Regions from separate parts of the Homo sapiens genome. Here region 1 is linked to region 2. The links come from fine-mapping of genetic effects on gene expression. A gene starts in region 2. The other region holds a variant in brackets. All regions are shown on one strand. Distances are from middle to middle. Region 1 has its middle 47 kb from the start of VSTM5. Region 2 holds the start of HEPHL1 (hephaestin like 1).

Evidence for each region.
Region 1: its variant is fine-mapped to the expression of HEPHL1 in prefrontal cortex (CommonMind, PIP 0.95).

The regions. Positions count from the first base shown.
Region 1 is chr11:93,889,259-93,906,100 of GRCh38, forward strand. It overlaps the pseudogene LOC101060084. Among named protein-coding and RNA genes, the nearest start is that of VSTM5, 47 kb to the left of the region's middle. The variant T/C (reference allele first, on the strand shown) is at 8,567.
Region 2 is chr11:94,014,700-94,031,541 of GRCh38, forward strand. It overlaps HEPHL1 (hephaestin like 1), which reads left to right and starts at 6,655. Exons shown (of 20, transcript NM_001098672.2): 1 at 6,655-6,839. The coding sequence starts at 6,670.

The DNA of each region.
Region 1 (16,842 bases), 130 kb before region 2:
TCTCGCTATGTTGCCCAGGCTGGTCTTGAACTCCTGGGCTCAAACTTGATCCTCCCTCCTCATCCTCTCAAAATGCTAGGATTACAGGCATGAGCCACCATACCCGGCCCAAGAATATAAATATATATATTTTTAATGAGACGGAGCCTAGTCTCACTCTGTCTCACCCAGGCTGGAGTGAAATGACATGATCTCAGCTCACTGAAATCTCTGCCTCCAGGGTTAAAGTGATTCTCCTGCCTCAGCCTCCCAAGTAGCTAGGATTACAGGCATGCGCCACCATGCCTGGCTAATTTTGTATTTTTTTAGTAGAGATGAGGTTTCACCATGTTGGTCAGGCTGGTCTCGAACTCCTGACCTCAGGTGATCCACCTGCCTCGGCCTCCCAAAGTGCTGGGATTACAGGCATGAGCCACCATACCCTGCCAACAATATCTACTTTTTTAAAAATCTCTTCTTCTCTCACCTGTGTATACAGCTCCCTTGTCTGCTTTCCTGTGCCTGTGAAAGGGTGCCTGAGGGGTGAGGCATCAGAGAAGCTACAAACTGATTATTACCTCCCACCTTTTGTACGTGTTCCATCCTGACCTGTTCTTCCTCTGTGGACAGCCCTTCCAGCCCCTCCAGTGTCTGTGCCCAGTGGAACCTGTGGGAGCAACTCTGCAGCCCCAACCCCCAAAGGGATGAGAACTGGGCAGCCCTCTTTCCACTGAATGCTGCTGCTTCTAATCAGGCTTCCCTTCCTAGTTTCAACGGCCCCTCTGCCTTTGCTGTCCTTACATTTGAACATTACCAGCCTCCCACCATTCTTGGGGTATCACCCTCTCTCATTCAGACCCTCTCTCATGTTATTTTAGCATTATGTTATCTGCCCTATGGTTTTCTTTTTAACTCTTTTTTTGTACTGATACAGGAGATAGAAGGAAATTATTTGGGTAGATAGGGCAAAAGAGTCCCCGGCAAAACTTTTCTTCTAACAAAAAGCAGCTTGAGAAATTACTTCCTTTCTAACCACTCGCAGTTCAAAGAAATCACTTCTCTTCTAATAAAGACCAGCCTGGAAGATCGGGCTGTAAAACATAGATAAACAACTCTGGCATAAAGGGAGAGCTTCCAGGGTAATCACCAAACTTCACATACATATGATTGATCCCAGTAAAAACAGTGGGCCTTAATGAGCACATTCCTTTCCCTTTTTGAGCACACTAAGATAGGGAAGCTGGAAGCTTGCATGGTGGGGCAGATGCCTACAGCTGCAAGGAGGTACCTAGGACCAGGCATGGAAACTCCCCCTCCCCTTTTTAGCACATGCATGGTGGGAAGGAGATAAGCAACATGGAATAGTCCAAGGTAAGAACCAGCCTGCATGATAAAAGAGTGGGGTGGGGCTGCCAGAGGTTTCACTCCATGCAGATGGCGCACCTGGTCCTAACTGGTTTTTCATGCCCTATGAGATAAAGTACCCTCTCCCTACTAGCTCACTTATAAAAACCCTTACATTTTACTGCAGTACAGCAACCCATTTGGGGCCCTTCTCCGAAGCAGAGAGCTATTCTTTTCCTTTCACCTATTAAACTTCTGCTTTAACCTCACCCTTTGTGTGTCCACATCCTTGATCTCCATAGCTGTGGGACAAAGAACCTTGGGTGTTATCCCAGACAACGAGGCTGCATCTGTACCACTGTCTTTGTAAATTCAATTGATGACACATTTAAACATGACACACACAGAAAAATGCATAAAATATAGACATACAATTTGATAAACAATAAACACAAATGTATAAGTTACATAATTATGAAACAAATACCTATATTGCCATTGTCCAGGTCAAGAAATAGAATGTCTCCAGTGCCCCAGAGGTCCCCTTCAGATTCCAATCCCTTCCCTGACCCAGAAGTATTCATAATTGTGATTTGTATGGTAACTATTTTCTTGCTTTTCTTTGTGGTTTTAAGGTCTATTTATGCATTCCTAAGCTCCATAGTTTCACTGCACTTGTTTTATATCAATGGAATTATATTTTTGTGATTTTTGCTTATGATGTTTTTGCATATGTGATTTTTTATGTATTTGTGTATGTTTATATCTTGCTTCTTTAGCTCAGTATTACGTTTGTAAGATTCTTCTATAGGGTTTTAAGTAGCTATAGTTCATTCATTTTTGATGCTATATAGGTAGACTCTCTTTATATCAGGAGTGGCTAAACTATGGCCCATGGGCCAAATCCAGCCAGTGGGCTGTTTTTGTATGGCCTGTGAACTAAGAATGTTTTTTACAATTATAAAATTTTAAAACAAACAACTCTCCACTGCTGCCCCCTAAAAAAGGCCAAAATATGAGGCAGACTACATATGACCCGAAATCCTATATCCTATTATCTGGCCCTTCATAAGAAAAGTTTTTCAACCCTGGCTGTATATGAATACACCATAATTTACTTATTTGCTGCCTTCTTGATGGGAATTTGAGTGGTCTGCAGTTTTTTGAGTACTGAGAAATGTTGCTGTGAACATTCTTTTTTCTAACAAAAGCTACTTCAGGCTGGAGGTCTGAACATTTTTGTACATGTTTTCTAGCACACATGTACCTGTATTTTGTAGGGTATATACTTAGAAATAAAAATTCTAGATCACTTAATATATGCATATTCAAATTTAGTAGACAACCCCAAACAGTTTTCCAAAGCAGTTGTACAAATCATAAATCATACTCCCAACAGCAGTGTGTGAGAGTTTCAGTTGCTCTATATCCTCACTAACACTTAATATTATCAACTTTAAAAATGTTTGCTTTTTTTTTGAGTTGGAGTCTTGCTCTGTCACCCAGGCTGGAATACAGTGGCATGATCTCGGCTCACTACCACTGCAACCTTTGCCTCCCGGGTTCAAGTGAGTCTCCTGTTTTAGCCTCCTGAGTAGCTGGGATTACAGGTGCACTTCAACATGCCTGGCTAATTTTTGTATTTTTAGTAGAGAGAGGGTTTCGCCATGTTGGCCAGACTGGTCTTGAACTCCTGACCTCAAGTGATCTGCCCGCCTTGGCCTCCCAAAGTGCTGGGATTACAGATGTAAGCCACCGTGCCTGGCCAAATGTTTGGTTTTTATATACTGTTATATCATCGTGGTTCTAATTTAGCATTTCCCTGCAACCAAGAAAGGTTGTGGGACATTTATATTTCTTTCTTCCTTTTTTTTTTTTGTAAAGTACTGGTTCAGTTCTAATATCTTTCCTATTTTTCTATTGGTATGTCCATTTTTCTTACTGATTTGAAGAAGTTCCTTATATATTTTGGATATGAATTTTTAATCAGTTATAAGTATTGTGAATATAAGTTTGCCTTTTCACTCTCTTAATGGTGAAGACTTGATGAGCAGAACTTCTTAATTTTAATGTAGTAAAAATTTATTGATATTTTCTTGAACAGTTAGTTCATTTGGTAATTTTTTTTGTTTGTTTTGAGACATAGTCTCGCTCTGTCACTCAGGGTAGAGTGCAGTGGCGTGATGTCAGCTCACTGCAACCTCCACCTCCCAGGTTCAAGCAATTCTCTTCCTCAGCCTCCCAAGTAGCTGGGATTACAGGCGCCACCACCATGCCCAGCTAATTTTTTTGTATTTTTAATAGAGATGGGGTTTCACCATCTTGCCCAGGCTGTTCTTGAACTTGTGATCCATCCACCTCAGCCTCCCAAAGAGCTAGGATTACAGGGGTGAGCCACCGCGCCCAGCCATTTGGTAACTGTTTAAGAAAACTATCTTCTCCAAGCTCATGAAAATATTCTCCCATTTTATCTTCTGAAGGCTTTATAGTTCTTTTCTTTTCTTTCCTTTTCTTTCATTCATTTTTTTTTTTTTTTTTTTTGACAGAGTCTTGCTTTGCTGCCCATGCTGGAGTGCAGTGGTGCTATCTTGGCTCACTGCAACCTGTGCCTCCTGGGTTCAAATGATTCTCCTGCCTCAGCCTCCCAAGTAGCTGAAACTACAAGTGCATGCCACTATGCCCAGCTAATTTTTGTATTTTTAGTAGGGACAGGTTTCACCATGTTGTCCGGGCTGGTCTCGAACTCCTGACCTCAAATGATCCATCTGCCTTGGCCTCCCAAAGTGCTGGGATTATAGGCATGAGCCACTGAGCCTGGCCTAGTTTTGCCTTTTCTGTTAAGTACTGGATACCTGGAATTGATTTCTGTTTAACCCATATGGATAGCAAATTGTCCCAGCAGCACTTATTTAAAAACCGTTCTTTCCCATTGCCCTGCAGTGCTGCCTCTATTATGTATCAAGTGTTCATATAATGCAAAGTTCTCTTTCTGGACTCTATTGTATTGGTCTGTTGATCTATGTACCAATCCATTCTGTTTAAAATATTGTAACTTTATATCAAGTCTTGACATTTGACAGTGCCAGTCCTACATTTTTCTTCTTTTTCTTCCTCCTCCTTCTTTTTCTTCTTCTTCTGGTGCATCTTGGCTATTCTTTGTCCTTTGCATCTTCACATAAATTTGGGGATCATCTTTTCAAATGCCACTAAAAACTGATTAGCATTTTGACTCGAATTGCATTGATTTTATAAATGATTTGGGAGAATTGGCATGTTTACAATACTGAGTCTTCCAATTTATGAACATAGTATATCTCTTAATTTAAGTAAGCTGTCTTTAATATCTCTCAATATGTTTTACAACTTTCACCATTAAGATCTGCACAATTTTGTCATACTTATTCCTAGGTACTTCATATTTTTTTTGAAGATGCTAAAAAGGTAGAGTCTGTTTGCCACAGATACATAAAATTTTTCTGTGTAACTTTGATTATTCGTGAAATGAAAAAGACTCTTTGATAAAACCTCTGCATTTACCTCACCTTCCTCTCATTTACCTGGGTCAGTGATGGCTCACCAGCAAGACAGAGGCATGTTTTTCCTTGATGGAGGGTACCCTTCTATGGACTAATAACAGCAATAACCAAAACTTGATCAGCACTTTATTTTTTAAATTTCTTTTCCATATTTCATTTCAATAGCATGATCAGCAGTTTAAAAAGTGTTTCCCTTTCCTGTATATCATATGGGCAGAAAAAAAGCAAAGTTTCCTACATTAGTATCTTATTTAATCCTTATAACTATCTTGAAAATAGACATTTTAATTTCCATCTTACTAGTGAGGAAACAGTTTCAGGGAGCTAAAAAGGCTTGCTCATTCTGTCAATGGATAAACACATAAAGAAAATTTGGCATATATACACAATGAAATACTATTGTGCCTGCCTTGAAAAAGAAGAAAATTCTGCTATTTGAGACAACATGGATGGACCTGGAGGACATTATGCTAAGTGAACTAAGGCACAGAAGGACAAATACTGCGGATCTTACTTATATGTGGAATCTAAAACAATCAAACACATAGAAGCAGAGAGTAGAATGGGGATTACCAGCAACTTGGGGGTAGGGAATGGGGAGATGTTAGTCAAAGAGTACAAAAGTTTAGTTAGACAGAAGGAATAAGTGTTTGGATATCCATGGCACAGTGTTGTGACTATCATTAGTAATAATGTATTCCATATTTCAAACTTGTTATGAGAGTGAATTTCAAATGTTCTCATCACAAAACATGGTAAGTATTTGAGGTCATAGATATATTAATTAGCTTAATTTAATTATTCCACACTGTATACATATATCAAAACATCACTTTGTACTCCATGAATATAAACAACTGTAATTTGTTGATTTACAGTAAAAAAAAAAAAAAGACTTGCTCAAGTTTGCATGGCTTTATTTAGCTCCAGTTCAGAACTATTGACTTCAGTCTGTTCTCTTTACCTGACCCACATTTGCCTCACCACCTGGCACCTTTGAAGGTGTGGGTTTTTGTAGTGCTTCGTGCAGTGTTTTGTAGTGCCGGATCAGATTAATATTTGGGGAGCTAGAGAGTAGACCTAGAAGAAAAACAGTCTACAGGGACTAGATTTTTTCTATTTTCTACCTAACAGGATACTATACTCACTTGTCTTTTTAGGGGAACCATAATTCAGTCAACAGATCTCAGTTCCCACTAAATTTGCTTTCGATACAGGCTTTCTGTTTAGAAATGAGTGCCAGTCCTAATGAACAGTGATATTTTTTTTTCTTATTAGACCAGAAGAAACTTGAGGGCATATATTTATAGTCATGGTGCCTGTTACAATGTTTTGGCAAAAAGTGTTTGCTGAATGAGTGCATTTTTCTGCTACGTATACAATCTAGAAGCTTATCTTCCAAGAGCTAACTATTTAATACCTTGAAGACTCAACAGGGGGTGCTCCAAGACTGCCTAGTGTAGTTCACACTTGGTGAAAAAGAATGCTGTTCACCTGCCAAGGAGCTGAAATCTGTGCGTTTTGGTTTAAAACAGGAGCAAGAAGGAGAAGGGGGAGGGAGATGAGAAAAACCTTTGGTTTTGGCATTCTTTTCATTCACAGTTGAGCCATAGTATGAGATCCTCTGTGGTTTTACTTAGGCATTTATGATTCCCTCAGATTTGAGGAGCATTTTCTAGCTCCTCTAGGGCAGAGCTCTCCTATTTTACTTTGTACTCCATACAAGAATTGATAAATTCTGGTTGAACTGAGACAGCTAGCTCTATCTGGAAGCCTGACCCCCATAAACTCTTCCCTGAATTAAGTTTCCTCCTCCTCCATTCCCTTTCTTGGTTGATGGTGTCTGCCGGCCCCAGCATTAGAGTTAAAACTTCAGAGCCACCCTGCTGCTCAGCAATTTCTCCATGAGTCCAGTTGGCATCTAGTCCCATTACCTGCAGTAGTTGTTTTAAACCTTCACTTCTCAATCCTCCCTCCTCCCTCTTTGCTCATCCCACCCCGCTGTTTCAGGAGGTGACTCTCTACTCTCTGAGCCCCAATTCACGTTTCAAGTGGAAAGCGCCTTGTGGAGTCTCCCTCAGCTTTCTAAGTGCACCTTTGGACCACTCCATACTCCCATTTGTCCTCTGTTTCCCTCCCCGTGATCCTGGAAGAGGTATCTTAGATTGTAGTCAACATGAATCCTACCCCTGTCTGGTCTTCCATTTATTTGTTCATTTATTCACCCATTCTTCAAACATTTATTAATCACTGCTATGTGATAGGTTCTGGGAATACAACAGTGAGTACAACTAACAAGGTCTACTAGGAGAGACAGCTGTTAATTGAATAACCAACCTACTGGATGAAGTGGGGTCAATGTTCTCATGCTGTGCTAAGTTGTACTGAGATAATGCAGCTTTTGTTGTTGTTGTTGTTTTTGAGATGGAGTCCCGCTCTGTCACCTAGGCTGGAGTGCAGTGGCGCAATCTCGGCTTACTGCAACTTCTGCCTCCAGGGTTCAAGGGATTCTCTTGCCTCAGCCTCCTGAGTAGCTAGGATTATAGGCACACATCACCATGCCCAACTAAATTTTTTTTTGGATTTTTAGTAGAGATGGGGTTTTGCCATTTTGGCCAGGCTGGTCTCAAACTGCTGACCTCAAATGGTCTGCCTGTCTCAGCCTCCCAGTTGCTGGGATTACAAGCATGAGCCACCGCGCCCGGCCAACACAGCTTCTTAGTTCCTATAACTGATATTTCTTCCTCAAAAGCCATTCTTCCTCACAAGCCAGTTAATAGTATCTCAGGCTCAGAGTAAGGATTCAGACTAAACACACCTGGGGAGGCAATCCCTCTGATAAATCACCTGTACCTGATGGGAAGGGGCCCTGCTTGATCCCTAAAGAAGAGCTTTGCAGGGCACAGTGGCAGGAGGGCTCACCAACAGGCTGGCAGTTCTGATTTCTCATGTTATGCTGTCCCTGTGTCTGTGTGTCAGCGCCCCCCATGGCCTGTGTGGGGGGATCAGAGCATACCTGGGTGGGTCAGGGTTGTGGACATGCAGTACCCACAGAAGGACATGGAGAGGATTCTGGGAACAAGAGGAGGCAGGACCTGGTGGGTTTCTGGGACAGGTCCATGCCCAGGGTTATTAAGTCCTAGGTTCTATTATATGAAAATCAGGTTAAGATGAAAGCTAAGTGGGTCAAAACGGAGGGAACTTGAGGTGTGAGGAGTTTCTGAGCAGACACTGGGAAGGTGAGGCCTGGATGAAGGTCCTGAGCTGGAAGAATAAGAATCTGCTGGCTGGACGTGGTGGCTCACACCTGTAATCCCAGCACTTTGGGAGGCCAGGCAGGTGGATCATTTGAGGTCAGGAGTTCGAGACCAGCCTGGCCAACATGGTGAAACCCCATCCCTACTAAAACAGAAAAATTAGCCGGGTGTAGTGGCAGGTGCCTGTAATCCCAGCTACCTGGGAGGCCGAGGCAGGAGAATCGCTTGAGCCCGGGAGGTGGAAGTTGCAGCGAGCTGAGATCATGCCACTGCACTTCAGTCTGGGTGACAAGAGTGAAACTTCATGTGAAAAAAAAAAAAAATCTGTTTCATAGCTCTTCAGTCACCTGTCACTCACTCATATCTGAAATTCCACCATTAGCCCCTTACTCTTCTGACTCAAGGTTTCAGCCTATATCAAAAGGGAAATAGTGTCTCAGGGAAGGGACA[T/C]GGAGCTCCTCTCACCTCTTCTATCCCTACCATCAGATTCAAATAGCAGCTGCTGGTAGTTTGTATTTCTCTGGGATCAGTGGTGATATTCCCTTTATAGTTTTTTATTGTGTCTATTTGATTCTTTCTTTATTAGTCTTGCTAGCGGTCTATTTTGTTAATCTTTACAAAAAACCACCTCCTGCATTCATTGATTTATTTGAAGGGGTTTTCTTGTCTCTATCTCCTTCAGTTCTGCTCTGATCTTAGTTATTTCTTGTCTTCTGCTAGCTTTTGAATTTGTTTGCTCTTGCTTCTCTAGTTCTTCTAGTTGTGATGTTAAGGTGTTGATTTTAGATCTTTCCTGCTTTCTCCGATGGGCATTTAGTGCTATACATTTCCCTCTACACACTGCTTTAGCTGTGTCCCAGGGATTCTGGTACATTGTGCCTTTGTTCTCATTGGTTTCAAATAACTTATTTATTTGTGCCTTAATTTCATTATTTACCCAGTAGTCATTCAGGAGCAGGTTGTTCAGTTTCCATGTAGTTGTGCAATTTTGAGTGAGTTTCTTAATCCTGAGTTCTAATTTGATTGCACTGTGGTCTGAGAGACTGTTTGTTATGATTTCTGTTCTTTTGCATTTACTGAGGAGTGTTTTACTTCCAATTATGTGGTCGATTTTAGAATAAGTGCGATGTGGTACTGAGAAGAATGTATATTCTGTTGATTTGGAGTGGAGACTTATGTATATGTCTATTAGTTCGCTTGGTCCAGAGCTGAGTTCAAGTCCTGAATATCCTTGTTAATTTTCTGTCTCATTGATCTGTCTAATATGGACAGTGGGGTGTTAAAGTCTCCCACTATTATTGTGTGGGAGTGTAAGTCTCTTTGTGGTTCTTTAAGAACTTGCTTCATGAATATGAGTGTTCCTGTATTGGGTGCATATATATTTAGGATAGTTAGCTCTTCTTGTTGCATTGATCCCTTTATCATTATGTATTACCCTTCTTTGTCTTTTTTGATCTTTGTTGGTTTAAAGTCTGTTTTATCAGAGAATACTATAAACACCTCTCTGCAAATAAACTAGAAAATCTAGAAGACATGGATAAATTCCTGGACACATATACCCTCCCAAAACTAAACCAGGAAGAAGTCAAATCCCTGAATAGACCAGTAACAAGTTCTGAAATTGAGGCAGTAATTAATAGCCTACCAACCAAAAAAAAAAAAAAAAAAAAAGCCCAGGATCAGATGGATTCACAGTCAAATTCTACCAGAGTTACAAACAAGAGCTGGTACCATTCCTTCTGAAACCATTCCAAACAATGGAAAAAGAGAGACTCCTTCCTAACTCATTTTATGAGGCCAGCATCATCCTGATACCAAAATCTGGCAGAGACACAACAACAACAACAAAAATTTCAGGCCAATATCCCTGATGAACATCAATGTGGAAATCCTCAATAAAATATTGGCAAACTGAATCCAGCAGCACATCAAAAAGCTTATGCCCCATGATCAAGTTGGCTTTATCCCTGGGATGCAAGGCTGGTTCAGCATACACAAATCAATAATCGTAATCCATCACACAAACAGAACTAATGAGAAAAACCACATGATTATCTCAATAGATGCAGAAAAGGCCTTCGATAAAATTCAACACCCCTTCATGCTAAAAACTCTCAATAAACTAGGTATCGATGGAACATATCTGGAAATAAAAAGAGCTATTTATGACAAACCCACAGCCAATATCATACTGAATGGGCAAAAGCTGGAAGCATTCCCTTTGAAAATCGCCACAAGACAAGGATGCCCTCTCTCACCACTCCTATTCAACATTGTATTGGAAGTTCTGGCCAGGGCAATCAGGCAAGAGAAAGAAATAAAGGGTATTCAAATAGGAACAGAGAAAGTCAAATTGTCTCTGCTTGCAGATGACATGATTGTGTATTTAGAAAACCCCACTGTCTCAGCCCAAAATCTCCTTAAACTCATAAGCAACTTCAGCAAAGTCTCAGAATACAAAATCGATGTGCAAAAATCACAAGCATTCCTATACACTAATAATAGACAAACAGAGAGCCAAATCATGAGTGAACTCCCATTCACAATTGTTACATAGAGAATAAAATACCTGGGAATCCAACTTACAAGGGATGTGAAGGACCTCTTCAAAGAGAATTACAAACCACTGCTCAAGGAAATAAGAGAGGACACAAACAAATTGTAAAACATTCCATGCTCATGGATAGGAAGAATCAATATCATGAAAATGGCCATACTTCCCAAAGTAATTTATAGATTCAATGCTATCCCCATCAAGCTACCATTGACTTTTTTCACAGAATTAGAAAAAAACTACTTTAAAGTTCATATGGAGCCAAAAAAGAGCCCATATAGCAAGGACAATTCTAAGCAAAAAGAACAAAGCTGGAGGCATCATGCTACCTTACTTCAAACTATACTGCAAGGCTACAGTAACCAAAACAGCATGGTACTGGTACCAAAACAGAGATATAGACCAATGGAACAGAACAGAGGCCTCAGAAATAACACCACGCATCTACAACTATCTGATCTTTGACAAACCTGACAAAAACAAGCAATGGGGAAAGGATTCCCTATTTAATAAATAGTGTTGGGAAAACTGGCTAGCCATATGCAGAAAACTGAAACTGGACCCCTTCCTAACACCTTATACAAAAATTAACTCAAGATGGATTAAAGACTTAAACAAGAGACCTAAAACCATAAAAACCCTAGAGGAAAACCTAGGCAATACCATTCAGGACATAGGCATGGGCAAAGACTTCATGAATAAAACACCAAAAGCAATGGCAACAAAAGCCAAAAATAGACAAATGGGATCTGATTAAACTAAAGAGCTTCTGCACAGCAAAAGAAACTAGCATCAGAGTGAACAGGCAACCTTCAGAATGGGAGAAAATTTTTGCAATATATCCATCTGACAAAGGGCTAATATCCAGAATCTACAAAGAACTTAAGCAAATTTACAAGAAAAAAACAACCCCATCAAAAAGTGGGCAAAGGATATGAACAGACACTTCTCAAAAGAAGACATTTATATGGCCAACAAACATATGGAAAAAGCTCATCATCACTAGTCATCAGAGAAATGCAAATAAAAACCACAATGAGATACCATCTCATGCCAGTTAGAATGGCAATCATTAAAAAGTCAGGAAACAACAGATGCTGGAGAGGATATGGAGAAATAGGAATGCTTTTACACCGTTGGTGGGAGTGTAAATTAGCTCAACCTTTGTGGAAGACAGTGTGGCGATTTCTCAAGGATCTAGAACCAGAAATACCATTCAAACCAGCAATCCCATTACTGGGTATATACCCACATTATTATAAATCATTCCACTGTAAAGACACATGCACACGTATGTTTATTGCAGCATCGTTCAGAATAGCAAAGACTTGGAAGCAACCCAAATGCCCATCAATGATAGACTGGATAAAGAAAATGTGGCACATATACACCATGGAATGCTATGCAGCCATAAAAAAGGATGAGTTCATGTCCTTTGTAGGAACATGGATGAAGCTGGAAACCATCATTCTCAGGAAATTATCACAGGAACAGAAAACCAAACACCGCATGTTCTCACTCATAGGTGGGAGCTGAACAATGAGGACACATGGACACAGGGAGGGGAACATTACACACTGGGGCCTGCCAGGGGATGGGGGGCTAGGGGACGGATAACATTAGGAGAAAGATCTAATGTAGATGATGGGTTGACGGGTGCAGCAAACCACCATGTCATGTGTATACCTATGTAACAAACCTGTACATTCTGCACATGTATTCCAGGACTTAAAGTATAATAAAAAAAGAAAAAAAGTTAAAAATAGAACCACTGTATAATCCAACAATTCCACACTGGACATATACCACCCCCCAAAAATTGAAAGCAGGGTCTTGAAGATATATTTGTATATCTTTGTTCATTGCAGTATTATTCACAATAGCCAAAGGGTGGAAGCAATCCAAGTGTTCATCAATGATTGAACGGATAAACAAAAATGTGGTATGTATATATAAATATATGTAAATACACACAGAAGCACACACACATTTGCACACACACATGCGCACACAATGGAATTAATAAGCATTGAAAGACAACAATGTATTATTCAGCCTTAAAAAGGAAGGAAATGTGACACATGCTACAACATGGATAAAACTTGAGGGCATTTTGCTAAGTGAACTAGGCTAGAAACAAAAAGACAAATACTGTATGATTCCACTTATGTGAAATACCTAGAGTAGTCAAATTCATAGAGGCAGAAAGTAGAATGGCAGCTGCCAGGGGCTGTGGAGATGAAGGAATGAGTTGTTATTTAATGGGTACAGAGTTTCAGTTTTGCCAGATGAAAAGAGGTCTGGAGATGGCACAGCAGGGTGAATGTACTTAGCACTACTGAACTGTAAGGGCTTTACACTTAAAACTGGCTGAAATGATAAGCATAGTTTTATGTTATATGTGTTTTACCACAATTGAAGAAAAGAATTTCAAATTAAAGATAATTTGAAAAAATAGTTTAATGGACATTTATATGCCCTTCCACTGGATTCATCAATTATTTTGTGTTATCCACTCCCAAATATTTTTATTTGTTGCTAAAACATTGGAATGCAAGTTGTAAATATCATGGCACTTTCCCTTTAAGTACTATAGCTGGTATCTCCCCCAGACAGGGATATTCTGCATAATCTACATCACATTCAAGACATTTAATACTGGCGTGTGTGTAATAACAGTAGTATTATCTAATCTATAATCCATGTTTAGAATTTCCCAGTTTTTCCAATAATAATCTTTGTACTTTTTTTTGTTGGATCAATTTTAGTTAAGTGATTTTTTTGACAAGTATTTATTGAGTACCTTATGTGTACTAGGCACTGTTCTATTTTTCACTGTTTACCAGTGAATAAGATTGGTAAAAATCCCTGCCTTCATGTCTAGCTTATATTCTAGAGCTATAGAGAGAGACAGAGAGTGGCTCAGGAGACAGTAGAGAGTAGAGGAAGACAGCAAACAAAATACATGAGGAAATGGTATGTGGGACTAAATACATGAAGTACCATGGTGAGAGAGAAGAACATGGCTGGCAAAGGGATTGGGGTACATGAAAAGGCAGGAGGAAGCTGAAGTTTTAAATAGGTGGTCATGTGCCAGGCGAGATGCCTGAGCATAGGCATGGAGAGGCCAGGGAGCAACCAATGTCTATTGGGGCAAGAACTTGCAGGCAGAGGAAACAGAAGGATGAACGCCCTGAGGCGGGAGCAGAGCTTGCATGAGTAAGACTGGCAAAAAGGCTGATATGGGGAAGAGCGGGAGGGAAGGTCAGAATGCAGGGGCCAGGCTTAGAGGCGAGTGGGGCTCTGGTTTTCACTCCTAGTGAAATGGAAGCCTTTGGAGGGTTCCCAGCAGAAGAGGAAAATGGTCCAACATACATACCAAAAATAAATATATTTATTTATTTATTATATATATATTTATATAGAATATATTTTTATTTTATATATTTATTATATATACATATACAGTATTATACATTTTATAATATATATTACAATTCTCTGCTTTGGGCTAATGTATATTTATATAATATTTGTATGTAATATAAATATATATTTATACTTTATATAATATAAACATATATATGAACATATTTATATTATATAAATATAAGAGAGAGAGAGAGTCTTGTTCTGTTGCCCAGGCTGGAGTGCAGTGGGGCAATCTCAGCTCACTGCAACCTCTGTCTCCTGGGTTCAAGCGATTCTCCTGTCCAGCTGAGTAGCTGGGACTACAGGTGCACGCCACCACGCCCAGCTATAAATTTCCATCTGTATTCCAGATTCTGACTTCTGGGCTCCAGTACCCAAAGTCCAGCGGACATCTTCACATCTACACCTGGGTGCTCTGCAGGCACCTCAAAGTGAACAGTGCCAACTGAATCAGCATCTCTGCTGCACCCTGCACCTGCACCTCCTCCTGGGCTTCCTATTCTGAAAATACAGACTTAATTGCGTATTTCCACAGCTCACCACTCTCCACCGATGCCCCTGTATAAAATTCCTTATCTTGGCTCTTGCCACTCACTCCTCCTCATGCATACTGGTGTCAACTGTAAAGGACTCGGTGGAGTTCCTCCCACCCAGGCTGTCTCTCACCTCTGGAAAGCTGGACCTTTGCCTATTGTTACCTCAGATACAATGTTTTCTTTCCCCATGAAGAGCCTGACCTACTCATGCTCTTCTCCCGAAGCTTCCAAGACAAGCTTAGTGCCTCTGCTAGGTGCTCCTGTGGTGTGAGTGACAGGAACAAAAGGCAAGAGCAAAGGGGGAGCCACAGAGAGATGTGCATGCTCATCACAGGGAGGAGCTGCTGTGCAGGTAATCTGTTTGCTCAGACTGACTTTGGGAACCATGTCAGTGACTCTCCTGAAATGAACACCTTGGAGAGACCCAGGCAGCTGGGTCATACGTCCCAGGCAGCTGGGGCAGACGGGTCCGAAACGTCCTGTTGATCACTGGCCACATGAATCCTAAGGGGCAATGCCCCAATTAATGAGAAGATCCTGCCTTCATGCTCTCTCTCAACAGGCCACTTTCTGTTTTTAAGAGCCTGGGCTAAGAGTGATCAATTCCATTAGCCCTTAGAGGTGGCATCACAAAAGCATCTTTGGTTCTCTCTCAAAGCCCGATCCTTCAGAGAGGAGGGCACCCAAGAATAGGGTAATCTCAGTCCTGACCCGGGACAGGAATTGCTTCCTTTGCCACTGGTTTATGTGTGACCCCAAATAATTCACTCCTACTCGCCCTGTAGGCCTTTATTCACTTGTAAAATGGGTATAATAATTTTTATCTACCTCAGAGGTGCACTGGGAGGTATAATTAATGGTGGTTAAAGCACTTTGAGAGGCACAGATGAAAGGCCTTCTATAAACACACATCATTATTATGATTAATGGTATTTTTCTTCTTCGAACACACTGGGAGGCAGCCCTTTTGGCTTAAGTCCTTTAATCACCTCTCAGCTCCTCAATCACACAAGAGACATTACAGCCTCCAGGCTGGCCACACAGTAAACCTTTAAAGCCCTGAAAATGTACAGCCATCCTGAAAGTGATTTTAATCTCTGTCTTACCCCTCTCTTTTGACATTCTTCCAAAATGATCTGACTTGAAAAGTGGCAGTTTTTATATATTATGAATAATCTGTTTAATTCGAAGCATTTCACCAGTTTTGAAGGGAGGGGAGAACAGTGTTCATCATCATTAATTAATATGTACTGACTATCCCCAGCACCAGCTCTTGCTTTTCCCAGACCACAGAGAAAACCCAGACATCTGTGTATCAGTGCGGGACTGATTTCCCAAGGTAGAACCAAAGTGACTCATTTTGGGGCAAAGCTAAGACCCAACTGGGTCCTGAGGTTCCTGAGAGCCCAGATCCCTGCTCCTGAAAAGGGACCTGATTTGTGGTTCCCATTCAGACCCCTCCAGCTCATCTCACAGAGTGCAGTGTTTAGTGCAGGCTTTGATTATGAGTGATGACCCACATGGCTTCCCAGGTGGAGCCTGCCAGAGGGACGTGTCAGCCTGGGCTGCCCTCCTGGAGGCTCATTCCCACCTGCTTCTTATCTATGTGGCCTTGGGCAGGTTACACAACCACTCTGTACTCCCTGAGGACAACACATGTCCCTTATAAAAAGAGAGAATGTGTAAAATTCCATCATGCCTGGCATGTAATAGGTCCTCTACACATTTTCCCTCCCTTTCCCCACAGAGGGCCTGAAGAAAGCTGTATCCACTTTTATAAAGCTGCTGGAAAATGTCCAGCTTGCCTGACCACAAGACAGGCTTCCCAGGGAGGATGCGTCCTGTTGCTGCCTCATCCGTCCAAGGGCATGACTATATATTGTGAAGTGGGGCAGATGTACCTCCCAACCCAGTAATCCAGTACTCAAGTTGGGAAGACCTGGGGCAGCTCCTGCGGTGGCCCTCCAACCCTCTGATTCCAGAATTTTCCAACCACTGTTCAGTGTTCATGACACTAATAGAAATGGAAGGCATAAAAATTAGCCAGGAGGTAGTGGTGCATGCTCATAGTCCCAGCTACTCGGGAGGCTGAGCGGGGAGGATCACTTGAGCCCAGCAGTTTGAGGCTGCAGTGAGCTATGATCATGCTACTGCACTCCAGGCTGGGCTGGAGCAAGACCTCATCTCCAAAAAAATAGAAAAGA
Region 2 (16,842 bases):
CTTACTTCATATCTCTGTGTCACATTTTGGTAATTCTCATAATATTTTAAACTTTTCATTACTATTATATCTGTTATGGTGATCTGTGATCAGTAATCTTCGATGTTACCACTGTAATTGTTTGGGGGCACCACAAGCCATGCTCATATACAACAGCAAACTTAATTGATAAATGCGTGTGTGATGACTGCTCCACTATTGGGAACAGGCCCCCAAATCTGGCCATAAACTGGCCCCAAAACTGCCCATAAATAAAATCTTTGCAGCACTGTGACATGTTCGTGATGGCCATGATGCCCATGCTGGAAGGTTGTGGGTTTACCAGAATGAGGGCAAGGAACACCTGGCCCACCCAGGGCAGAAAGCTGCTTAAAGGCATTCTTAAACCACAAATAATAGCATGAGTGATCTGTGCCTTAAGGACATGCTCCTGCTGCAGATAACTAGCCAGACCCATCCCTTTACTTTGGCCCATCCCTCTATTTCCCATAAGGAATACTTTTAGTTAACCTATAATCTATAGAAACAATGCTTATCACTGGCTTGCTATCAATAAATATGTGGGTAAATCTCTGTTCAAGGCTCTCAGCTCTGAAAGTTATGAGACCCCTGATTTCCCACTCCACACTCTATATTTCTGTGTGTGTGCCTTTAATTCCTCTAGCACCACTGAGTTAGCATCTCCACGACCGAGCTGGTCTTGGCACTCCACTGACTGCCATTCTCCCATCACTTTCTCTCCTTGGGCGTCTCTATTCCCAGAGACACAACAATGTCGAAATTAGGCCAATTTAATAACTCTACAAAGCCCTCTACCTGTTCAAGAGAAAGAGTCACACATCTCTTATTTTAAATCAAAAGCTAGAAATGATTAAACATCGTGAGAAAGTCATGGTGAAAGTTGAGACAGGCTGAAAGCTAGGCCTCTTGTGCCCAACAGTTAGCAAAGTTGCAAATGCAAGAAATGTTCTTGAAGGAAATTAAAAGTGCTACTTCAGTGAACACACGGATGCTAAGAAAGTGAAATAGCCTTATTGATGATATGGAGAAAGTTTTAGCTATCTGGGTAGAAGACCAAATCAGCCACAACATTCCTTTAAGCCAAAGCCCAATTCAGAGTGAGGCCCTAACTCTTTTCAATTCTTTGAAGACTGAGAGAGATGAAGAAGTAGTAGAAGAAAAGTCTGAAGCTAGCAGAGGTTGATTCATGAGGGTTAAGGAAAGAAGCCATCTCCATAACACAGAAGTGAAGATGAGGCAGTGAGTGCTGATGGAGAAGCGGCAGTAAGTTTTCTGAAAGGTCTAGCTAAGATAACTGATGAAGGTGACTACACTAAACAATACATTTTTTTTTCTTTCTTTTCTTTTCTTTTTTTTTTTTCTTTCTTTGAGACAGGGTCTCACTCTGCCTCCCAGGCTGGGTGCAGTGGCAGGATCTCAGCTTACTGCAATCTCAGCCTCCTGGGTTCAAGTGATTCTCCCAGCTCAGCCTCTGGAGTAGCTGAGATTATAGGCATGTGCCACCACGCTTGGCGAATTTTTGTATTTTTTGGTAGAGATGGGTTTCACTGTGTTGGCCAGGCTGGTCTCAAACTCCTGACTTCAAGTGATCTGCCTACCTTGGCTTCCGAAAGTGCTGAGATTATAGGCATGAGCCACCACACTAGGCCAATAAATTTTCAATGTAGACCAAACATCCTTATAGTAGAAGAGGACAAGTCGATGCCTGGCTTTAAAGCTTCAAAGGATAGGCTCACTCTTGTTTTTGTTTGTTTTTACAAGATGGGGTCTTGCCGTCTTGCCCAGGCTGGTCTCAAACTCCTGCACTCAAGTGATCCTCCCACCTCAGCCTCCCAAGGTGCTGGGATTACAGGCATGAGCCATTGTGCCTGGCCCAAGGATAGGCTAACTATCCTAGCAGATGCTAATGCAGCTGGTGACTTTAAGTTGAAGCCAGTGCTCATTTACCATTCCAAATGTCCCAGGACCCTTAAGAATTATGCACAGTCTACTCTGTCTATACTCCCTAGATGGAATAATAATGTCTGGACAACAGTACATCTGTTTGCAGCATGGTTTACTGAATATTTTAAGTCCAGGGCTGAGACTTACTGCTAAGAAAAAAAAATTCTTTCAAAATATTACTGCTCATTAACAACGCACCTAGTGACCCAAGAGCTCTGACGGAAATGTATAATGAAATGAATGTTGTTTTCATGTCTGCTAACACAACATCCATTCCGTATGTCATAGATCAAGGAGTAACTGAATTTCAATCTTATTACTTGAGAAATACCTTTCTTGAGGCTATAGGTGCCATAGATAGTGATTCCTCTGATGAATCTGGGCAAAGTAAATTGAAAACCTTCTGGAAATAATTCACCATTCTAAATGCTGTTAAGAATATTTGTGATTCATGAGAGAAGGTCAAAATATCAACATTGACAGGAGTTTGGAAGAAGCTGATTCAAACCCTCATGGATGACTTTGAGAGGTTCAAGACTTCAATGGAGGAAGTAACTGCAGATGTGGTGGAAGCAGCAAGTGAACTACAATTAGAAGTGGAGCCTGAAGATGTGACTGAATTGTTGCAATCTCATAATAAAATTTACATGAATAAGGTGTTGCTTCTTATGGATGAACAAAGCAAGTGGTTTCTTGAAATGGAATTTACTGGTGAAGATGCTGTGAATATTGTAGAAATGACAACAAAGGATTCAGCATATTACATAAACTTAGTTGATAAAGCAGGAGCAGGGTTGGGAAAATTTATTCCAATTTTGAAAGAAGTTCTTTTATTGGTAAAATACTATTAAACAGCATCATGGGTTATAGAGTAATCTTTCATGAAAGGAAACCAAATGATGTGTCAAACTATTGTTCTTATTTTAAGAAGTTGCCACAGCCACCTCAACCTTCAGTGACCACCATCCTGATTAGTCAGCAGCCATCCACATTGAGGCAAGACCCTCCACAGCAAAAAGACTGACTCACTGAAGACTCAGGTGATTGTTAGCATTTTTAAACAATAAGGTATTTTTAAATTAAGGTGTGTACATTTTTTAGACATAATGCAATTGCACACACACTTATAGACTGTAATATTGTGTAAACATAACTTTTTTTTTTTTTTAGATAGGGTCTCCTTCTGTCAGTGAGGCTGGAGTGCAGTGGCATGATCTTAACATACTACAGCCTCGACCTCTTGGGCTCAAATGATCCCCCCACCTCAGCCTCCTGAGTAGCGGGGACTATAGGTGCACCCCACCATGCTTGGCTAATTTTTTTGTATTTTTTATGGTGACAAGTTTTGCCATGTTGCCCAGGCTGGTCTCAAACTTCTGGCCTCAAGTGATCCTCTCACCTTGGCCTCCCAAAGTGCTGGGATTACAGGTGTGAGCCACTGTACATGGCCTAAGCATAAGTTTTATACGCACTGGAAAACCAAAAAATCCATGTGATTCGCTTTATTTTGATATTCACTTTATCATGGTGGTCTGGAACCACACCTGCAATATCTTCAAGGTGTGCCTGTACCATAATTTCAATAAAATGTGATTTAACCCAGCATTATCTTTCTCTGCTATTGATGCATGATGTCAAATTTACCTTATCTGAAACCTGGTGAATGTTTTGAGGAATGGAGTGAATATTTAGAACTGGCCATCTCACATAATAAATGCTTGATAAATGGGTTTCTTGACTTTAAAAAAATGTCTGACTAGTGTTCAATGGAGTTGGAAGTATTTGCTAACATTATTACTTACACAGGTTACTTAATCAAATTTTAAACATTGTCAAACATATCTTGTATGTAACTGTGGGTTTTTAAAAATGAGTGTTGATATGATAATTCACAGGTTTCCTAATAAAATTTAGACACTGTCAAACACATTGGGCGTGGAACTGTCGCTTTTCTGAAATGAGTGTCACAGGAACACTGCATTGTCTCATACCAGTTTATTTTCTTTAGCTCCTATGGCATTCCAATGCTCTTTGAGTAACACCTTTATTGTCCTAGGATAAGGAAGAATTTAAGAGAGCTTTCCAGAACCCTATTTCATTGTTTTTAATAAATTCTTTCCCACTTTTGGCCCTCTGTAAGCAAGTTCTCTGCTACAAATAGATTAAATGCGTTGACTTCATCTGCTATAGTGACTCAGATTTCTTGACCTGATCTATTCTGCAGATCTAGTTTTTGAATCAGAAGTTAGGTAATGCCTTCTCCTGGGTTTTAATTATATGCGTTCAGTATCTTGGGTAAGAAAGTTAACTCTTTTGTCTTTTTGAGCTGTATCACTTATACCTTTTTTTTTCTCCTGTCCAAAAAGGGGGGAATATGTCCTAATAACGTCTTTGATACGCCCAAAATAGCCAGCTTCTCTGGGATGTAAGCAACAAGATATTTGGTTTGGGACATTTCCAAATTCCACAACCTTTTTTTTTTTTTTTTTTTTTTTTTTTTTTTTTTTTGTGAGACAGAGTCTCGCTCTATCATCCAGGCTAGAGTGCAGTTGTGAGATCTTGGCTCACTGCAACCTTTGCCTCCAGGGTTCAAGAGATTCTCCTGCCCCAGCCTCCCTAGTAGCTGGGACTACAGGCATGCACCAACATGCCCGGGTTATTTTTGTATTTTTAGTAGAGACAGGGTTTCACCATATTCGGCAGGCTGGTCTCGAACTCCTGACCTCAGGTGATCCACCCACCTCGGCCTCCCAAAGTGCTGAGATTATAGGCATTAGCCACTGCGCCTGGCCAGATTCCCCATACTTTGAACTCCCTACTTCTTCTGAGGCCAACCTCAGGCCTACCACGTAAGTCCTCCTCTATAGTGTCCGTTGAAGTGCCAGACTCATACGAAGCTCCCAAACTCATGTTGAAGAGGAGATTTTAGCTAAATGGAAATGTGCTGTGGCAATTATTCTACCAGTGTCCTTGATACAACAAACAAATCAGTAAATCAAAGTTGTAAAGAGCCTGGCTATGAAACAGGATACTCAGTATGTATTTTATTATTTATTTATTTATTTATTTACTTATTTTGAGAAGGAATCTTGCTCTTGTTGCCCAGGCTGGAGTGCAGTGGCACAATCTTGGCTCACTGCAACCTCCACCTCCCAGGTTCAAGCGATTCTTCTGCCTAAGCCTCCCAAGTAACTGGGATTACAGGCGCCTGCCACTACGCCCGGCTAATTTTTGTATTTTTAGTACAGACAGGGTTTCACCATGTTGGCCAGGCTGGTCTCAAACTCGTGACCACAGGTGATCTGACTGCCTTGGCCTCCCAAATTGCTGGGATTACAGACCTGAGCCACCGTGCCTGGCCTTTTATTAATTAAGATGAATGCTAATACAAACTGTGCTATGGGACATTTATAGGGTAGCTACCATTTAAAGAAAAAGAATTCTCTTACTTGAGACTGGTGGAAGGCATGGCAGATAGGACTTTGGCAAAGAATAGTGGAAAGAAAGTTGAAGACTGCGGGGAAACACAAGTCTGTGGATACACAGGTTGATACAGTCTCTCTTAGAGGGCATGAATGGGCAGGAAGGACTTTAACACTTACTTAGTACCTACCCTATGCTAGGGGCTGGGGTAAGCACTTTGCAGACATCATCTTTTAAAAAGTTCCTTAAGAATCCCTCAATCCTTCTTCTATAGTCTCCAGCTCAATGATGTTAAGTGATTCCTCCATGCCACTAAATTGGAAAGTGGTGGGAACTCACATTCAAACCCAGGTCTGACCAACTTCAAAGGCCAGGAGGCTGTTTCCTTCATTCCATGGCTGCTCCCTCAAGAGTAACTGTGCATGGGGATAAGAGTAACTCTTTTCCAAGGTTGATCAAGGTCTCTTTCAATACCGAGATTCTGGGACACAGATTAGAAGACACAGAAGAATGGCCCAGCCTTTTCCACCCAAAGACCTGTTACTGAATTTTGTCTCCATGTGTCTGAAGGGTACTTCCCCATCATCATTTTCATTCATCCTAAGAAAGGCGGCTCCCTGTGTGGAGGTGGTGGCCGCGAACATTTTGGCTGAACTGAGCAGTCAACCTTCTCATTTTTGCTGGAAGGATTTGAGAGAATATGGGGGAGATGGTACACGAGCCAGTGGAGGATTAGTGGGGTTTTATGTTGTTGTGATGAACTTTATGATGTTAGTTTGTGGTTTCACATAGCCTCATAAAACAAGCTGGATGGTGATTATGTCACTTCCTCTGCCCTCCCGACAGAGAGGAGGCCTTCTTTAGTGCCTGGAGTGTTTCCTGATGCTCCACTCAGGCCAGCTCACTTTTCAGATTTTAATGTAAGAGGTGTGGAGAAGAAAAGAAGAAGAAGGGGTGGGGGAAAGCCATCGGCTCAAGTAGTCACACTGTCATCCTGGCTGACAAATGACTGATGTCAGAGCATGGTACCGAAACGTATAGAAACAGGCCTGTTGGCTTGGGCAATACATAAATGAGCCAGTCACACATTTCTCGGATGGCTGGCAAAAGTTTTGTTGTCAAAGCAACGCCCCCATCGAGCTTGCTTTGCTTACGCAAGGCCTCAGCCTTTGCCTCTTCCCCAAACCCAAGCTACCTGAGGAGGAGGAGCTGAGTGAGGGGGAGGGACCAACAGATTTGTCCCCTGTGCAGGCTGCCTGCCTGCTTGAGTTACATCCACAAATGCCTCGGAAGCAGCCAGCTGGCTGCATCTTTCTCCTCACATTCCTGGGTCTGTCTGGGCTGGTTGGCACAGTTACCAGAACGTACTACATTGGGATTGTGGAAGAATACTGGAACTATGTACCCCAAGGGAAGAATGTTATTACTGGGAAAAGTTTCACAGAAGACAAGTGAGTGAACTTAGGGTCCTCATTGACTCCCAGGTTTGGCCTCTTTTTGACTTTGTGTGGGGAAGGTTGTATTTCTTGGGTACTTACAATGGGGGTGAGTTGATCTAGACCAAGAGAAGGTGTTTTGTTTTTTGCTTGAAGAGCCCTAGTATGGATGGGTGTGTAATCTGGAAGAGATATTCATAGCTCCATGTATTTGTTGAGCCACCTATTAATAGCCTTGCCTGTGAAGGGACATATACACAACCAGGTGTTTGACAATTTCCACCAGGTACTACTAGTAACTTCTGGGGGATTCTGTTTGTTTGTTTGTTTTTAAATGACAACACTTGGGATGAAGATTTGAGAAATTTCAAGAATTCCTTATGGTTAAAACACAGTGTTTTCTTAGTTTGTATTTCTGGAATGAAACATCATAATGGGAGATAAGTATGCTAAGTCATGTTTTTCAACGTTTAAAAGAGGGGGAAGTCACAGGAGATTTGCCTGCTATTTTCAGGGTTTCCTTGAGTCTACTTAGAATTAGCGCTTTCACTGGTAAAAAGTTTATTCCAGCTCCAAGTCATTCTTGCTGAGGGCAATATCTTATCCCAGAACCTATAGCATAGCTAGGTGAGATGGCGCCACGGTGTTCTATGTTCCTGATTTTTAATTTGGGGCAGAAAATAACCCTTTCTCCCTGCCCCCTCCAGGGCCTAGTATCTTAACCATCTAATTTGTTTCATGGATCTCCCTCTGAAGTCACCTCCTGACTCCAGAAGATGTCATGCTATTTTCAACTTTGTGGTTATTAGAACATCTTTTCAGATGTTTTGGCAACCTCTGTTGGATATTTGAATGCTTGCTTCTTTTCTGACAGGCAGAACCAGTTGCATTCTGCATCCATGTTCCATTTCCTAAAGATGAGTTTAGTTGATAAAATTCAGGAACAGCACAGGGCCTACCAGCAAGTCTTTAAGAGCCAGGGCCCCTTGTCTTTGAGGAAAGACCAAAGATCCAGTTGGCTTGGAAATACAGCTTCCAAGTTTTCTAACAAAACAAAGGTGGTATAGTCATGTTTTGTTTACCAAAGATGAAGCCTGTGCCAGACAAGCTGCCAAGGCAGACTTTTCCTTAAGCTTTGTACCTGGAAATGTAATGTCTGCAGGGCTATTTCCAAAGGAAACTCTTGATTGCTTTCAATCCCACATCTGCTGACCATTGGTGGTAGTGTCTTTACTGTGATGAATAGCTATGGGATTGAAAGGGTACCAAAAATGCCAGGAGCCTTCTCTACAAATAGAGCTCTGCTATTCTCAGAGAGGGCTCAGTAGGAAACAGTCAATGTGAGCAGCTACTGGGGATAAGAATGTTGAAAGTGTGTACACTGAGTGTAATGAATATAGCGTTTAAGCTAAATGTGATACTGGATTGCCTTTCCATAAGATTAACACCCACAGAAATTCTTCTTCCTAAAATGCCCACGTCACTATAGCTGTGTATGGGCATTTATTCTGACCCAAAAATTCTATGAGGGATTTTTCAATTCATTACTGCTTGCAGATATTATTATTCTCATTTTATGAACCAGGAACCAAGGCTCTGAGGTTAAATACTTGCCGGAGTTTATAAGTAAGTGGTAGCACCAAACTCATTGCTTTGGTTCCACAGCCCATATTTCTTTTCACCACACAATCTGTTTCTTGGTAAAGGTGATCCTTCTCCAGTGAATTAAAACAACTTTGAGGGAAGCCAAGGATCACAGTAATAAGAACTTTCTAGAAAGTCCTAATTTTTGCCAAAGGCATGTTTAGTCTCTTTTGTCACTCTTCCTAGAAGCATATTGAAAGGGATCACTGGTGGTCAGTGACCAAACAAGTTATCTGGGTTAATTCAAAACCTCAAAGAATCATAAATACTCAAGTACTACAATGCTGTTTTCACAAAGTGGGGTGCTGGAAGAAGTTGGGGTCTCTGTTGATCATTTCAACCAGAAGATGGTGCTTTGATGAAAGTACAATAAAACATATAAAAATTGCTATGGTGAAAAAGAAAATAGGCATGATGAAAACAGTTGGTTTGGCATCAGATTTGAGTGAGATGGTTTCAAAATGCATGGTCCCATATGATAGTGCGTTTGTTCTTAGAAGCAGCTGGCATGCTAAGGTGTCATACCTAGAACGCCAAGGTCCCCAAACATTTCTTTCTGGTATGCGAAGGGACAGAGTTTGTGTCAGACAGACTGCTACCTCTTGGAAGGGAAATCCAGGTGAGTATGCAGTGGACGTTGGCTTTTATCAGTGATCCCATCAGAATACTGGTTTTTATCAGTGATCCCATCAGTGCTAGTAGTTGTGGTAGGTGGCTCAGACAAGTTCCTAAAAAGGTAGGGCTGTCGTAGGTGGCTGACATTGCTTGTGGACCACAAGATATCCATCCTGGGTGTATGTGAAGATGCTGTGACTGGGACATAAGTGGAGTTCAGTGTGTGTACTCTGTGTTGTGCCATTTCCCCAGGAGCAGGAAGGAGCCATCGTGGATGATGTAATCATGCCCCTCTCTCAGCCTCCTGGAGGGTGAATAGGCTGCCTTTCTGAGGACAGTCTGTTGTTTTGGATATTCACACTTGGGCAAATGTCTGATATTTAAAGGACCAGGAGAGCCAGGTGCTCAGAATTCCACCATGAATGGAAAGAACCTGAAATAGAAATCCAGAGACCTAACTTCTAATGCTTGCTCTGCCCAACTTGCTGTGTAATCTTGAACATGTCATATAATCTCTCTGAATATCACTTTCCTTAATTTGTGTAAGAAGGGAGTTGAAATGTAATCCCTAGAGTCACTTGAGAAGTGTAATGCCAAAGCATTAGAAATAATTTTGAAACTGAATGAAAAATATCTTTCCTGACTTGCCAGTTCTAGAAAGATTTTTGCAATGGTGAAAGAAAGGAGAGAGATGATTTGCAAATGTTCAGTCCTAGAAATTAGAGTTGGAGAAGACCTGGGACTGATCGTGGGCATATGTGACAACTTTTGAAGTAGTCTTTATTTTTCTTTCTCCATTTTTTCCCCTGTCCTTTAAGAATTATCTCCAATTCCTCACTTCATACATGAAGCTTTCCCCCATGACCCTGGCTTGTACTGATCTGTTTCCTTCCTAACCACTCATGGAGCTTGGGGTCTTTATCATGAACTTGGACACTGCATTTTCTTCCCTCTGCATTGCCCTCTAATTGCTTGATGTACATTAGTCATGTCTGCAACTGCAGTAAAACACCCTGATGATAGATAAGAAGTTTTGGCGTATATTCAATAATCCCCCTTCCCTGCACGGAACTTTGTCATTGACAATATCCTATGGAGGATCCAGTACAGGGCAGGCATTCAAAATCATTGAAGTAAAAGCTAATCACCTTATCAACTGAGTTGTTCTGGTTGTTTTATCTTTGAATAAGGGGAATGGGCAAAAATCTGGGGAACAAGATGGTGGGTGCCAAAGTTTCAGTAATGTGAAAACATTTGGAAACCAAAGTTAGGCACATCCTTATGCACAAGGACGAGATCGAAAATGAATTGAAATCATTTTGCTGAGACTCTATAGCCCTCAGATGGTGCAAATTAACTTTTATGCTTGGTACCTATGCTTGATTATAGGGTTCAAAAATATAATTGAGTCTATAATCACTAATGTTTCCTAGAAAGTATAGGATTTAGGAGTTAGATTCTATTTAGAAATACTTTCTCCAGATAAATATACTTCTCCTCCTCCTTGGAGTAAATGGGGACACTGGGCTCCTTTGAGTTGCCTGGGGATGGTGTCAGTATTTTGATCTATTTATACCAGTCCTGCTCAGGCTCATAAAGTCCTTAATTAAGGTGTGTGTTTGGTGGTAAAGCCTGATCCTTAATGGAAGTAGGGTGGGGTCATCTTATTTAAAGCCACAGTTCTCACCATAGACCTCATTAGGCCATCAACACACATTCAGCCTTTTTCTTCCCAGTGAAATGCAGGGTTTTCATGGACGCTAACTCATGGGTGGAACTGCGCTTGAACATAAGTGAGGCTAGCCACTGCTCAAACCCCATTTTTGTAGAGTCTGTTAGTTGACCCAGCCACATCACTGCATCAGCCCAGTGTATGGCAAGGGGCTTTGAGTATTCTAAGAAGCAGGCCCTAGGATAGGTGTGAGAGAGAACTCACACATCTATCTGAAAGAAGGACCAACTGAGGGGAAGCAGGGAGGAGACAGAGGTTTTTGTGAGCTTTGAAATAAAGAAAAGAATATCATCTGGTAAGTGCATGGTCTAAACAAATGGTAACTTTCAAATCTCAACTTCTGTCTTATCAGCACCAAAAATATTTTGTTTGGACTGATGCCATATGAATCTCTGGGAACTGCTGTTCTACCCTATATCAGTAAGTGATTGTTTCTGGCTGCCACTAGAGACTGGAGTATAATGTCTTTAACAAATTAGGATTTTGTATTCATTTGTAGAAGAATCCAGAAGTGGGCAGTCCAAGGCTGGTGGGATAGATGGTATAACAAGATATCAGGGGCTTTCTGTATTTCTGATCCACCATCCTTAGCCTATGTGCTTTAAACCCTTTGTGGTTTCCCTCCTCAAGCACATTCATGGTCACAAGATTGCTGTTGGATCTCCAGCCATCGTGTCTACATTCCAGGAAGAAAGAGAGAAAGGCAAAAGGTAGAAGCAGAACAATTTTTGCTGCATCAGCCTTTCAAAGGGTTCTCATTGAAACCCTACCCAACCAATTTTACTTAAATCTCATTGGATACTCATAGCCACAAAGAGGACTTGAAAAAATATAACGTTTCAGCTGTGTACTTTTCTGCCTGAATAAAGATAGAATTTACCTCTGACACTAAGAAAGAAGGGGAGCATGAATATTGCAAGGCAGCTGGCAGTCCCTGCTCCCCTCCCCTACCTCAGTTCTCTCCTGTTTTCCATGATTCACAGGCATCCTCTTAGTCCCCATCTTGCTTTTCCCACCTCCATATGATGGACCCCCAAGGCCTGGTTAGCAGGATCTGAAAGATAACTCATTGACAGTATAATAAGTTAGCTAAGTGTCACTGAGTATTTACTATGCTCCAGGCATTGCTTTAAAAGGTTAGCACACCATGAAGTGGGGTGACCAATCTTCTGTCTCTGGGAGGGAGATCAGGTGGCATCGGGAGGATTTCTCCAGCCAAGTGTAGCCCAGCCTTGGTCTTAGGGAGATGCCAAGGCAGTCCAGTTTGCTGGTAAAGTATGGGGCTCTGGCATCAACTGTCACATTTAGAATTCTTGCCCCACTTTATGGGCAAGTAATTCAATCTCTCTTTGCCTCAGTTTTCTCATCAGTAAAATAGGGATAGTGACAGTACTTGCTTTGAGGGTGTATCAGTTTTCTGTGGCTGCTGTAACAAGTTACAAACTAGGTGGCTTCAAACAACAGCAATTTATTCTCCCCCAGTTTTGGAGGCCAGATGTCTGAACTGCATGTGTTGTCAGGGCCACAATGCCTCTGGAGGTTCTAAGGGAGGGGCCATTCCTTGACTCTTCCAGGTTCTGGTATCTGCCAGCATTCCTTGGCTGTGGCTGCATCACTCTGATCTCTGCCTCCATTTTCATATCGTCGTCTTCTCTCTGTGTGTCTAGCCTATCTTTGCCTCTTACTTATAAGGATGCTTTTGATGGTGTTTAGGGCCCACCCAGCTAATCCAGGATGATCTCCCCATCTCAAGATCCTTAACTTAATCACATCTGCAAAGACCCATTTTTCCAATAAGTTTCTGTGGATGAGGACTGCGGAGTTATCTTTGGGACTTAGGATCTGCACATACTCAGACACAGTGCCTGCCACTTGAGAGCACTTGATCAGCTCTCGTGGTAGCTCTGCCGTCTCACGGGGTTCTTTGGAGAGCAGGAGCCCTGGGGGAAAGACCTTGGCTGGTCACATTTTCCTCTTTTCTAACAAAGCTTTACGCTTTACCAGAAATAATCATAACTGTCATTGATTCAGCACCACTCTCCCAGTTGCTGTGTGTGTGGCTCTACACCTCTTCTCATTGAATCCTTATGATAGCTCTACCATGGTCACTGCTTTACAGCAGAGGAAACTGGTTCAGAGAGGTTAAGTCTCTTCCCCATTTCACAACCAGCAAGTGAGAGAGTTGGGATTCAAGCTCATTTTCATTCCCCCTCATCATGCCATTTGTTTTGAACACACCTTGTATATGAAGGGCTTCTGTGGAAATGAAGAGTGAAAAGGAAGGACCCAAGACATAGGTGGTGCCAGGGACCCAGAGTGAAAGAATGTATATAGAAGCACATCCAGATGGTATTAAAAATTATTAATCTAATAGGGAGGGTGCAGCTTCACCAAACTGAATGTGCAATCTCCGTCTCCACCCTTCCTTTTTCCAAGTGACATTTGTCTCAATCTCATCTTTTTTTCTCCTTGGTGAAGAACGTTCCTTCTCAAGCTCAAACAATATTTCTTGTCCTTATTGTGACTCTTATGATCTCACATGTTGGATCTGACCACACTCTCTGCTAACATTATTTTGCAGTTTATCTTCATCTTATATTTCCCTGCCCTCTACACAGACATGTGGGCTCTGGACAGTAGAGTTGGCAGTTAACATTGTAAAACTGTGTTTACTGTCAAATGCATGTTTTGCTTCCCAACTAGATGGTAAAACTCTTGCATGCAGGGACTGAGATTAATACATCTTGGCCCCAGTTTCTAGTTTTATGTCCCAGACATAGTAGATGATCAGCAATTGCTCCAAGGAAGCTATCAGAAAACATCCCTCTAAAAGATGCAGAGGTCATGGGATTGCTGGGTGGTTTATATCCCTGCAAGCTACGAACTCCTGAGAATCTAACCTGGAAGTCCAACTCTGTACTGTGTAGGGGATTCCCAAGGGCAGGTTTGTTCTGATAATGATTAATCTCCTCTGCTTTTGGAAGATATCTCCATCCACAGGATTGGCCCCAGGCACTGGCAATGTAATGTTCCAAGTCCCCATCTTGTCTTTAAGGCAGTTGTTAATGTTAACCTTCCTGGCCCCACTGGATTCTTTTGCAGCAGGAAGTAGACACCTCCTTAGCTTGAGTCAAGATGTTAGAATGCAGATTGAAAATGTTCTTGAGGAATAGTGATTGCTCAGCCCCTCGCCATGGCTACGTGATAAACAACAGATGGCTCACCAATGCAACATTCTAACAAATATACTCCATTTAAATTGGAGGTTGCTTCATGGGGATGGCTCCCTTGAAGTTACTTCCTTACTTTGTTTCTTGGGCAAATTTGCATTTTATAGAACTCAAAGGAGCTGGAGTTTCTGTTCTACTATTACAAATGCATAATATGTTCTCAATGGGTGGTTTGCTGTGTAGACACTAAAACAAACTACTTTCTCTTATTTCTATCCCTTCCCACTTCTTTTTTTACTTTCAAGCTTTTTTTCCTATTAGTTAAAAAAGTATAGGATCTCACTGTATTGCCCAGGCTAGTCTTAAACTCCTAGCCTCAAGTGATCCTCCCACCTTGGCCTCCCAAAATGCTGGGATTAGGCATGAGCCACCACACCCAGCCTCAACAAATTTTTATCAAATAGTTACTATAGTTTTTGTTTTGTGTGAAGTATCTTCCTAGGGCACCTTCATGGGTCAACCCTGTCCTACTCTTGATGTGGAGTCAGTGCAGGGGAAGAAGTCCTGGGACAAGGAGGAAGCTATGGGTTCTCTTCACTGTCTGAGCAGGAGGCTCCTCCTGCAGCAGAGGAAGAGAGGGTCTTGCAATAATAATTAAATGCCCCCACCCAGAAGTGACACGTGGCATTTCCACTCACAGCCAATTTGCCAGAACACTATGGCCCATCTAACTTGCAAAAGCAGAATCACTGTGGTCTTCTTTGGTTAGGAGGAAAGAAAAATTAGAATACGCAAGCCCTAAAAAGCTCTACTACAGGAATCATTTGGTGATCTTAGGAAAAAATACAGATACCATGGTCTTGCCAGTAGAAAGTCTGATTCCATTGCCCTGAAGTGGGGCCTGAGAATAAAAATTTGGCAAATGTTCCAAATGATTCTGATGCAAGTGGTACATGGGTGGACATTTGGGAACCACTGCTTTAGAAAACCCAATCCCCCCTTGGGGTGACTATTGGCTGTATAGGTGATAAGACTGATATGTGTCCAGGAATATGAAAAACAGTCAATGTATAACTCAGTGCCAAAATATGAAGCATACCATAAGTGCTCCAGTCCCTACAGGGACTCAGCAAACACTTCACTGCCCCTCCTGATACTTATTTTGCCTCTTATTTAGTGCCTTTGCCAGACAACTCATGGTAAGACCTGGTCTTGTGGAGGTGATGGAGAAAGGTCTTGGGCAGAGGTGGGGTCAGGACCTCTTAGCAGATTAAAAGCAGGAGTACATATGTGAAGATGTGAGCATGTGTGCTCCACATGCATCTGCATGTGTGTATACTTTTGTGTCTTCATGTGTGCAGTGGGAGAACAGGGTAGAGAAGTAGAGTCCAATGTCCATCCTTCCCTATAGGGCCTGTTGGAATGATAAGGTCCTATGAATAATAGTTTTGTATTATAGTTTTTACCCATCAGGCTGAACCCAGAGAGCATACCAGGGATTCTGAATCTAATCCTTGCTGTGCCACCTTACTGGGTGACCCATTGTCAGCTATAAAACTGGGCAACTCTGAGGCTTATTAGCAAGCTTGGGGATGACTCAGTTCTTCCTCTGCCTCTTCCTCTTCCTTCTCCTTTTGCACAGCCTGTTCAATCAGGAGTTGTATTCAGCTACTCTTTAACAGAATCCTGAAAAACAGAAGTGGTTTAAATCGATTAAAGATTTATTATTATTGCTTACATAAAAGAGAGCCAGAGGTTGGCAATCATCTGGGTCCCAGGTTCCTTTTGGCTCTCACTTGACCATTCCTAGGGTGTGACCCTCTTCCTCGTTATCTCAAGATGGCTGCTGGAGCTCCAGTCATCATGTCTACATTTCAGGCATGAATAAAGGGAAGAGAAGAGGAGAAAAATGGTGTCTTCCAGCTACACCTGGAGAAGTATCATTGAGTGACTTCTGCTTACATCTGATTGGCTAGAATTATGTCACATGACTATTCCAAGTTGCAAGCAAGTCTGAGAAATGTAACAGCCTCTATTATAAAGGTCCAGGGGTCAGGCATCCCAACTTTTATATCCCATTCTCTTGCACAGGGAAATGTAAGTCTTTGCCTTATAGAGTGGGAGAGGGCTAACTCTTGCTCCTGGGTAGACACATGCAGGCTTAGTGGATGCTTGGATACAAGAGACCCAGAATGTTCATACACAGTCCCAAGACTTCAGCCTCAATGCCTGAGAGGAGAGTTGGCAAGCCAGAGGTTGAGCAGGGATAGTGAGCAGATGCCATGCTCTCTGCTCCAGAGGCCAATCCCCTTGCAGAGCAGAACTCAATCCAACAACACCCTTTGTTGTGGCAGCTTTGTTTTTAGAAATAGAAGGCATGCAAGAGAATTTTGGCCCCTTGGAGGCCAAACAGCATGGGTCTTCTTTTTTTTTCAATAAAACGTGAGCTTGTTTTTAGTATTGAATTTGTAGGTACAGAGTAACCGCCCCTCCCCCTACAACAGTATAAAAGAGGATGAGTGAAAGTAAACTTCTCCTCCGTCCTCCCTCCCACCTGTGGCTTCAGTCTCATAGTCTGGAGGCTACACTTTGTTTCCCTGGTCACTTTCCAGATGTATTCTTTGCATATGGGTAAATGTGCATTGTTACACACACACACACACACACACACACACACACACACACAAATGGGATAATACTTTACATACGGCTCTGCAATTTGCTTTTTTTTTATTAGTATCTTGGTGATCACGCCATATCAGCACCTGTAGACCACCTTATTCTTTTCTTATGGGTATGTGGCATGAATGCCATCATTTATTTACCCAGCTGCCAGTTGAAGAACATTTTGGTCTTT